2 separate regions of the Homo sapiens genome follow, and region 1 is linked to region 2. Evidence: fine-mapped expression QTL. A gene starts in region 2. The other region holds a variant in brackets. All regions are shown on one strand. Distances are from middle to middle.

What was found. PIP is the estimated chance that this variant, and not a neighbour inherited with it, causes the effect.
Region 1: its variant is the best candidate, but not a certain one, in a credible set for the expression of G2E3 in CD4 T cells (CEDAR, PIP 0.75).

Annotation. Positions count from the first base shown.
Region 1 is chr14:30,703,914-30,709,303 of GRCh38, forward strand. It overlaps SCFD1 (sec1 family domain containing 1), which reads left to right. Exons shown (of 25, transcript NM_016106.4): 18 at 1,910-1,972; 19 at 4,077-4,152. Among named protein-coding and RNA genes, the nearest start is that of SCFD1, 84 kb to the left of the region's middle. The variant G/A (reference allele first, on the strand shown) is at 2,628.
Region 2 is chr14:30,556,287-30,561,676 of GRCh38, forward strand. G2E3 (G2/M-phase specific E3 ubiquitin protein ligase) reads left to right here and starts at 2,872. Exons shown (of 15, transcript NM_017769.5): 1 at 2,872-2,986. It overlaps G2E3-AS1 (G2E3 antisense RNA 1), which reads right to left. Exons shown (of 4, transcript NR_151720.1): 3 at 4,451-4,549. RefSeq lists an enhancer at 2,538-2,727.

The DNA of each region.
Region 1 (5,390 bases), 150 kb after region 2:
TATATATATATATATATATATATATATATATATATATATATATATATATAAATAATGAGATATCTTGGGGATGGGACCCAAGTCTAAACAAAAAATCAATTATTGTCTCATATGCATAGCCTAAAGGTAATTTTATCAATATTCTTAAGTTGTGCATTTGGACTGCAACCTGACAAGAGGTCAGTGTGGAATTTTCTCATTGTGGCATCATGTCTGCACTACAAGTAAACATTAGTGTATATTCTTTCATTGTTTATACATATGACAGATTTTTTTTCTAGAGACAAGGTCTTGCTCTGCCACTCAGGCTGGAGTGCAGTGATACAATCATAGCTCACTGTAACCTCACAGTCCTGGGCTCATGATCCTTCCATTTCAGCCTCCTTAGTAGCTAGGACTACAGGTGTGCACCACTGCACCCAGCCAGATATTTTTTAAAACTGGGAAATCATTTTTAGAGATACAGTTTTGTATTCTAGTTCTTAATAACTTTCATCATGCCAGTTCATGGAAGTATTTACTGTTTGCCTAATATTAAATCATATAAATATACTGTTATTTATTTAACCCTTCTTTGTTGTTTAGATATTGTTTCTAGTGAAAAACTATTTTTTGTTGTTGTTGTTAATGCAGAAATTCTAATCCACTGCTGATTCACATCATCCTTTCTGAACAAGACTGAAATTTTTGTTTGGGATTTCTCTAAGGGTATTGTTGGCACATTTTGTCAAGATTGAAATTGAATATTTTTAGCATTTCTACTACCACATCTTAGTGATTTACATTTTTTTCCCTTATAAAATTTTCTTTAGGTACTCTTTTTTTCCCAGTTACAAAGCATTTAAAATAAGAATCATTATGAAAGAATACTGACTGGCATAAAATGTCTATGGTGTGCCACTAAAATGTGTTATAAAACAGTGTATACAATATGATGCTAATTTTGGTTTTTAAATCATATATGTTAAATAGGCATATGTCCTAAGATTAGAAGACTATACACCAACATCTTAACAGGGGTTACCTCAAAGTGGTAGGATTCTTCTGGGAGCATTTTATATTTTCTGGATTCTCTACAGTGAAAATACTCTCAGAATAAAAATATTTTTTAAGGCACATCTAAATGCCATCTTTCTGCCCATCCTTCATCAATCGTATTGTTTAGTTACAGAGATTCTGGACATTTAGAAAGAGTTGAAAATAAACAACTGTATGCAATTAAGTGTAAAATCTGTGGTATATAATATAACTAAAGGGAAAAATCATTGAGTGGTAGAGTTAGAAGTGTTAACAAAGAAAGTGGTTTTGAACTTAGTCTTAAAAGGAAATGTACAGTTTCTATTGAAGAAGGTAGTGAATTTATACTCCCTAAAGGACAGCATGAGCAAAGGCATGTACCTGGAAACAAGGGAGCATAGAATGTAGGAAACAATAAAAAGACTAAATTATTACATGGTTGTTCTTTTAAGCCATCAAGTCTCTACATCAGTTCTTTTTATTTAAATGATCAGATAGAAATGAAGAAAAATAGGAAGTTTGGAAAACTAATGCATTTGTGCTTCTTTAAGAATTTCAGGCTGGGCGCAGTGGCTCACACCTGTAATCCCAGCACTTTGGGAGGCCAAGTTGGGAGGATCACTTGAGCCTGGGAGGTCAAGGCTGCAGTGAGCCATGATGGCACCACTGCATTCCAGCCTGGGTGACAGAGTGAGATCTTGTCTCAAAAAATAATAATAATAATTCAGTGTTTTAGTACTAATTGTAGTGTACTTGTATTCGTTGAAAAATTCTCTTTTCAGAAAATGTCTGCATCATAGAAGTTAGAGTTAGTCAGTAGATATTTTAATACCGTGACACCCAGAGTTAGTTCTAATAATTAGCTTTTAAGTACAACTTCCTTCTTTCATAGGGCTTTTACCAAGATGGCCTCAGCTCCGGCCAGCTATGGCAGCACTACCACTAAACCAATGGGGTAAGTATTTTTAATAATTCTTTTGCATCTTTGTACTCAAAACCTTACTTAGACTTTCATGCCTTAAAAACACAATGTCTGATACTTTGAATGCGGAAAATGTCACCATGCCTTTGGTGACATTTAGATGGCTGAAGTTCTCCTGGTTTTTTTTTTCTATTTTTTAACTTATTTTTCATTGACATTTAATAATTGTACATATTTATGGGGTACAGTGTGCTAATACATACCATGTGTAATTATCCAATCAGAGTAATTAGCATATCACCTCAAACATTTATCATTTTTTAGTGTTGGGCACATTCAGATTCTCACTTTAAAATGTAAGTTAATGTCTTTTACATGGTATGAGCTGAAACTTAGATAACATTTTTTATAGTATCATCCCTATTTATCCATTTATCCATCTGTGTGTATCTGTGTGGATGAGTAAACACATACATACATTTAATTGCATAGCTGAAATGATATACACCTAAATGTTAATAGTGGGTAATTCCAAGGGGTATAGTTTTTTTCTTTGGGGTACTTTTCTTTATTTTCCAAATTTTCTACAACAAATATTGTCTTCTCGATGGTTTTTATTCATATGCTTGTTTGTTATTATAACATAGTTTTCATTTTCAGAAAACATTTGAAGGTTAAAACTGTTTTA[G/A]TACCAATGTTGATAACTAATATAGACTTGAAGCTAGGCCTGGCTTCAGGATAGATTCAAGCAGTGCTAAATGATAGGAAGTCCTCAGGGCTAGGTATGACATCTTACTCCAGAGACCCCAGTGGAGTATGTGTGATTTTCAGAGAAACTGAACAAGGTAATTCTGACTACTCTTTTTGGTACCATACAGTTTCCAATTCCTAGCTTACTTTTTAGAGCTAAAACAAAAGCAGGAAGCCAGAGGAGAACAGGTTTATCCTAGCCCCACACTGAGTAACTGGTTTTAATGAAATAATTTCCAAAAACAAAAGCACTCAGCCTTATAAGTACTTGGCAAAAGGAATCCAGCTGGCCTCACCTTCAGACAGTGCTGCGCAGGTTAGCACACCCCCACAGAGTTGCCTGGTGACAGGAATCGCTCCAGGGCCATTCATTCCAACAAGGATTACTTTCTCTTGCTTCTGTTAATGAAAAGATTTCCATCCTGTCCATCTCTTCATTTCAGAGGGGAGTAAGGCAAGATGAGGAAAAGGAAAATATTTTTGGAAAATTACTTCCATGTGTTTAATAAAATAGACTTTTCAGTTTCATCCCTTAAAAATCTTATTGAACATTAGCCTATTAGAGTTCTTATGATTTTACAATTGGGATTTTGATAAATATGTTATAAGAAGCTCTTGGGTGATCTGAAAGCTGTCCCTAGCCTTCTGAGATTTTAATGCAGGATTACTAATCTGTCCCACAAAACATCTTTTAATTCCATGTGAGAGACTGTTTGAACCACAGATATAAACCCAGTATGGCAAGTCACTTATTGGTGTTTTGTTGTTGTTGTTTAAAATGTAGACAACATTCTCAGAGTTGAGGCAAAATTCGCTAAGTCTGTTCTGTTTCACATTTTTTTATGATAGATTTTATGTATAGAGAGGAGAGAAAATATACAATGTAGAATTGGATCCAGCTGCTGATAAAAGAGAACACAGTAATGTTTGACTTACTCGTAATACTTGCATATATATTTTCAATATGTTCATATGGTTTGAACTCCTAAAGCAAATTGTCCAAGTTACTAGCTTTAAATTGGTTTTTTTTAGCATTAGACAATCAGGAAGGCAAGGAATTCTCTTCAAATTATAACTCGCAAAAAAAAAATATAGCTAAGACTAGGAAATTAAGATGTTTATTTTGAGGGCAGCTCTTTATTTTTGTATTTTTTAATAATTATTGACTAATCAGAGTATTTTAATTACTATTTTATTGTTAAATAAAATTGCAGCTGTGATACCCATGGCAGCAGAAATTCTCAAGACCCTTCTGTTTAGTGAAAACAAAGGTGGTAGGTACAGCGAGCATCAGCATGTGGTGTGTAATCAGGTAAATATTTTATCGATAACAGATTGGAGAGGCACTTTGTACTTAGAATGGTCCTTCTCTTTTGCCCCTACCTAGTCTTTTATCACGAGTCATGAATACAGGATCACAGTTTGTGATGGAAGGAGTGAAGAACCTGGTTTTGAAACAGCAAGTAAGTACACTTGTTAGAAAACATACTGGTAACTTTTAAACATAAATGTTGACAGGCTAACTGCTCAGGTAAAGCAACTCCTGGATTTATTCAAGTAATAAATAGGAATCATAAAATCAAGGAGTTCCTTTTTTTTTAAGTTCTGGGGTACATGTGCAGGGTGTGCTGGTTTGTTACATAGGTAAATGTGTGCCTTGGTGGTTTGCTGCACAGATCAGCCCATCACCTAGGTATTAAGCCCAGCATCCATTAGCTCACTTCCCTATTGCTCTCCCGGCCTCCTACAGGCCCCGATGTGTGTTGTTCCTCTCCCTGTGTCCATGTGTTCTCATTGTTGAGCTCCCATGTGGTATTTGGTTTTCTGTTCCTGAGTTAGAAATCAAGGAGTTCTTTATTAGTGTATTTAAGACTCTGAGGGTATTTTTTACATGTGTAGCTCAGAGCTCTGTAATTTTATACTTTTTTAAAAAAAAATTGTTCATTTGGATTTGGACTTTACTTACATTTTGATTTGTATTTACCATCAGGTTGTTGAAAGTACGTTAATTGAAAGAATGAACCTAACCTATTTAGAATAGTGAACTGTTACATAATGAATATCATTTCTTTTAACATATAATCAGAGAATATTAATAAGCTAATGAACTTCATATCTAAAGTCCTATGTAAATTGGACTAAACAAAATATTTTAAATAGAATTTATATTTGGGGATAATAAAATTGTACCTCGATTTCGCATTTTCTTTCTTTTAGTCCTTCATTTTGTATATAGGACACTTTTAAATGACTTTTTTGTTTCTGTGATTTTTCTATTCTAATATATAGATATTCTGCTTCAGTCATTATTAATTTGGTATCTTTTCAAAAGATTTGTTTTTTACTTTTAATTTTGGAAATTTTCAAATATGCATTATCAAACTCTCCTGAATCCTTCAATTAAGTCAGTATCCATTCTTGTTTCATCTATCCCATTTGTGTTTTTTATTTACTTTTACTGGAATATTTTAAGGCAAAACTGAGATAATATTTTACACAGAAACTCAGTTTGCAGTGAGAAGGGTTTTAAAGGCCAAATCAAAAGAATCAGTTATTCAGACCTGAATATTGTTTATTTACCTGTATTCAGAAAAAAACAAGATCTTTTCTTTCCTCCACACTTTTCTTTCTTATAATGTTTGCTTGTGGTATTTTATATACTTAATCTTTATTTGTGGTTTAATAAGTTATTTTTTTCTTT
Region 2 (5,390 bases):
GTATTAAGTGGAATACTTATATCAATTTCACTCAATTTAAAATGTTTATAAGCTCTCAGAATGCCTGGTCTGATGGCCAGGTTTGTTAGATTTAAGTACGTCCTGCAATGAATATTTTCTTTCAAAAGTCCTTAAATTGTGGCCGGGCGCGGTGGCTCACGCCTGTAATCCCAGCACTTTGGGAGGCTGAGGCAGGAGAATGGCATAAACTCAGGAGGCGGAGCTTGCAGTGAGCAGAGATCACGCCACTGCATTCCAGCCTGGGCGACAGAGAGAGACTCCGTCTCAAAGAAGTCCTTAAGTTGTATGTACTCAGGCTCTTTGATTTAGTCAGTGGGTATTTATTGAAGATCTTTTTTGTTCACAAAATGCTGTAACATTACTTGAATATTGTTTGTATTCAAAATCACCTATACTCACTCTGGGTGAAAAAAAAAGAACAACATTTTAATTAGTACAGATAACCAGATAGTCCATTCAGTGAACACCAACCCTAGACAATTAATACAATTAAGCCTGGCTAATCTTATGGAAAAAAATGTGAATGACTTTACAGGGCTCTCCACCACTGATGAGAACTGAATCTCATTATTCCAAGTGATGGCCAGGCTGCGGGGTGATAATGACTTTGACAACATTTTAGCGGAAGAAATTGAAGAATTAATTAAGGGTTGTAGAGAAGAACTGACCAAGGAGAACTCAGGGGACAAACTGAAAAAAAAAAAAAAAAACACAAAACCTTGCTCATAGAGTTGTATAAAGAAAATCATATATATATATATAATCTTTTGGGTGGCTTTTCCAGGGCATTTTTAACTTTTGTATACAGGTCAACTTGAGAATTTAATTCCTGTGAAGGATAAGAATGGTGGGAAGGTGCCAAGAATTATGAAAGACATAGGAAAATATATAACATAGTTTCTGCCTTCAAGAAACTTCAAGGAGCAATATATTTAACGGGGTCATATTAGATATGTAAACATAAAATAATACACTATATCATGAATGACAAAATGTGTGGTCAAATCATTATATGTAATTGTAGAAAGAACTGTTGAATGAATGAATGGACATAGACTATCCAAACATTAGAAATTTATACGCTCATTAAACCTGATTTTGTATCTAGAATGTATTCAATTTCTAGCAATCTTCCTTAAAGAACAAAATTGCAAAATTAAAAAAAAAGTTTATTATCTTAAAAATTCAACTGGTGATAAAGTGAAAGGTAAAAGTTCTCCATCTCTTCCTACTCTTATTTACCAGCCCGCTCCCAGAGATGTTTACAGCTTAGGTATCCATCCCAAAACTTTGTATACCATATACACACACATACTTTCAAACAAGGATACTACAGTCCTTCTTAAACTTTTTCAGTATTTCATTTCAGTACCCGCTGATCTACTTCATTACTTTTAGTGCCCGCAGCGTCAGTATATCAGATGCTAAAGTATCATAACTTACATGTATTTAACCCCTTCCTTATTTGTAGACACAGATTATTTTCTATCTTCCACTGTTAAAAACAGTACATCAGTTAATAGCTTTACACACCCCCTGTGTCAGATTACCTGTAGCATAGGTTCTCAGAAATCTAGTAAACCTTTCAAACTGTATTTTTTTTTTTTTTTTTTTTTTTTTTTTGAGACAGAGCCTCGCTCTGTCGCCCAGGCTGGAGTGCAGTGGCGCAATTTCTGCTCACTGCAAGCTCCGTCTCCCGGGTTCACACCATTCTCCTGCCTCAGCCTCCCGAGTAGCTGGGACTACAGGCGCCTGCCATCACGCCCAGCTAATTTTTTGTACATTTAGTAGAGACGGGGTTTCACCATGTTAGCCAGGATGGTCTCGATCTCCTGACCTCGTGATCCACCCGCCTCGGCCTACCAAAGTGCTGGGATTACAGGCGTGAGCCACCGCGCCCGGCCCTCAAACTGTATTTTTGACAAAGGCTAAAGGTATGCTGTCATGGTTTGGTTTGTACTGATCCGTTTAGGTAATTCAATGTTATTAGATGTGAGGATGATCTGGTGGCAACATCAATCACAGCCATAAAGGTCAGAGTTATTTAGCGCCCCTCACCCCCTAGCATTTCCAGTCCTTCCTTTAGTTTCTGGAAGCTCCCAGATGTCTCTTCAGAAGCTTAAGACGTTTTGGATCAAAGACATACTGTGGTCCTCGATAAAGGAAAAGATACTGTTGTTTCAATAATCTCACGGGACAATACTTAATAATCTCGTAAAGTGAGCCCTTATCTGAGGGGGGAAATAAAATTTATTGCCTTCTAACACCATCAAATAGTTTATTTGAGACCAGGAATTGGTCCGACCACTTATTTTCAACTTTTGGCTGAATACGGGTGAACTTGGCTTTTTGTTTTCCCTAAACCCAGGACAGAAATAAATTAAAAGCCCTGACTGTGCCGGGATAGGACTGAGAGGCCCAGGAAAGGCTGCACTAAGTACTTGGAGGGTTTGTTTTTTTCCTTCTTGCTGCTGCTGCTGTTTCCTCGAGGATGAAGGGAAAGATAAAACCCTCCTGCCTCCGTTCGTGCTTTCATTCGCCCCATTCCTCGAAGGTGACGAAACTTCAGCACATCTCTGTCCATTTTGGAAAAAAGAGGATCCCCTCAAGAGCAAATAGGCGGAAACAATGACCCCGCGCCCGGAGTTTTTCTGAGCTCCTAAATAGGGAGAGAGACCCGACAAAACAAACAAGCGAAGGCGACACAGCCAGGTTAGCACCGAGCAGCAGCGCAGGAGCGCCAGAAGGGCGGGAGCACACGGGCCCTTCCCCACAGCCAGCGCCTCCGCGGGTCCCACCCCTCGAGGGCGGGGCCGACCGCTCTTTCCGGGTTTGCGAGCGGAAGTGGACGAATTTGAATCCTGTGGGCCGTTGAATGTGGCTGCTCGCGGTCGGCGTGCCCCGACGTACAGCGGGCCGGGAAAAGTGGCACTGAGGCTCTGGAACTTCTGCCCAGCTCTCCTTGGTGAGTAAATGGGGAACGGGAAGACGCAGAACGTTCCAGAGAGAGAAGCAGGACCGTGGGGTGGGAGAGGGTGTCAGGAGGCCGGACGTCGCAGCCGGGGCCTCGCAGTGCTTTTGGGGACGTCTGGTGCTGGGGCCCGGCCTGGAGACTAAGGGAATTCGGGGCACTGGGGGCGTTTGCTGGACCAGCGCTCTCGACGGTTGCGCACGCCAGCCAGCTCTCAGTGTTGAGGATTCGGAGGCCCTGCCGGTCCCCCGCGAGTAAACCTTGTTTATACGCATCCTCCGTGGCTTTTTTTAAACCCGTAGTTTATTATTTCCACCAATTCGGCTCGAATGCTGAAATTTTAACAGTAGTTAAATCTCACTGTGAAGGCGTTGCCACGTTTAAACAAATCTCTTTTAATGAAAGATGGAAGGTTGGGGCGGGTTTAGAATGAAAAGATGCTCTACGTGGCTCCGCGTTCCTCCTGAGAGAGATACCCGGGCAACCTTGATTAACTCTGGACTGCAGGGAAGTGACAGTCTTTGAAATGCCTGAGTGGGATTTAAACTGAAATTCGAGTGTCCTTTGTATTTAAAACCCGGATATTTTTCTTTCACGGTTGACATTTTTCATGTACCGCAAAAATCCGAGACTCCTATTTAAACCGGCTGTGGTAACAGCGGTGGTGATTAACTAGGGTCTTAGTTTGCAAACAATAGGGATAAGGTTTAGTTCCACCGCCCTGCCTTTTCGCCTCCCTCATTCATTGGCCAACTGGGTTATTATGGAGTCTTTTTGGAAGTAATCCACTAATGCTTTGAGCATCTGTTTCTTTGGGTTTTATTGTTTTGGGCTTTTTTTTTTTTAATTTTTAATGATGAACTATCTGAAATATGGAACTCTGTCTAACCCAGTAGTAAAGTCATGCCTTCTGGAATGGTTTAAAAGTGTGCCATAAATGTAAACTATAAATGGGAACTTTAAATGTGTACAAGTTTTACATCTTTATTAAAAATCGTCAGTTTTGTGTAGCTTAATACGAAAAGATATTTTAAGTTCCTTTTAAGGTTTTAACACCAGGATATTGTACCATTTAAATGTATAAATATATTTTTAAAAGTAGGACTTCATAATAATCAGAATAAAAACATTCCTTCATCCAGTGCTGGCTATTCCAGCACCCCCATTCTTCCTGCTATTGAACTTTTAAGTGTTAGCCAGGAAGAATAGACTTAAATACTCGGTGTTTAGGATAGTTAAAATATGAGCATTTTTCATATAGTGTCTTTGTAACAGAGACATTGGCTATACTTCTCTAAGCCTTTCTGCTCATTTCATATGTGCTGTCAACAAATGGTAATTTTTAAAAATTGATCGCTATATCCTAATCTCTTTATTTTTTTCTACCTGAATTATTTTCATTGGATTTTTGCTCTTTCTTAAATCAGTGAGTTTCAGAATTTATTGTGTATACACTACCTTGAAGGATTTGTTCAACAATGCTGATTCCTGCACTTCAGATCTCAGATTCTGAATCAGTAGGTCTGGAGGATGGCATTGAACAGTCTGCATATTTAACTGAAAGGTTAGAAAATACTGTGAGTTTTCAAAACACTGATTTGATCTTTCCTAGAAAGGCATTATAATGTGTTGATTAAAGACATGGAACTGGGGCCAGATTGCCTTGGTTTGAAGCCCATCTCCACCACTTGATAGCTAGGTGACCCTGGGCAAGCTGTTTAACCTCTCTGCTTCATTTCCCTCTACCGTATGATGAGGTTACCTACTTTGTAGGATTATTGTGAGGATTGAATGAGTTAATATATACAAAGACCTTAAAATAGTGTGTGCCACATAGCAAATGATACATAAGTCTCCAATTACATTGAGTTACTAAACTGTAAAAACCGCATCACATACATTCTCTCATTAATCTTTACAATATCGCTGAGGTAGTTACTATCTTCAAATAAGAAAACAGGCTAAGAGGGGCTCGGTAATTTGTTCTCACACAACTAGTAACACGTTGGAACTGAAGTCGGAAATTAGATTTAACTCAAAAGTTTATGCTTTTTTAAAAAAGTAATATTTCTTGCCTCTCTTCAGTCTCCCTCCAGATGTTGCTCCATAAGTATCTCTGATGGCTTCTCATTGTCTACCATATATAATTCAAATTTCTTAGCTTTGCTTTTTATTTACAGAGCCCTTCAGAGTCTGGTACCAACTTCTCTTCCCAAGGACCATCTTCATAATATTACACCAGTCTCTTCCAACCTGCTGATGTTCTATCAATACTACTAGAATTCTCCAAATCTATCTCTTATTACATTTTATGCATATTTAGCCATTGGCCTTTTTATTTCCCCTTAAGATTTTACTCAAATGGGTTTAAAGACTTCTCCAGGCTGTGCTTTTTGCT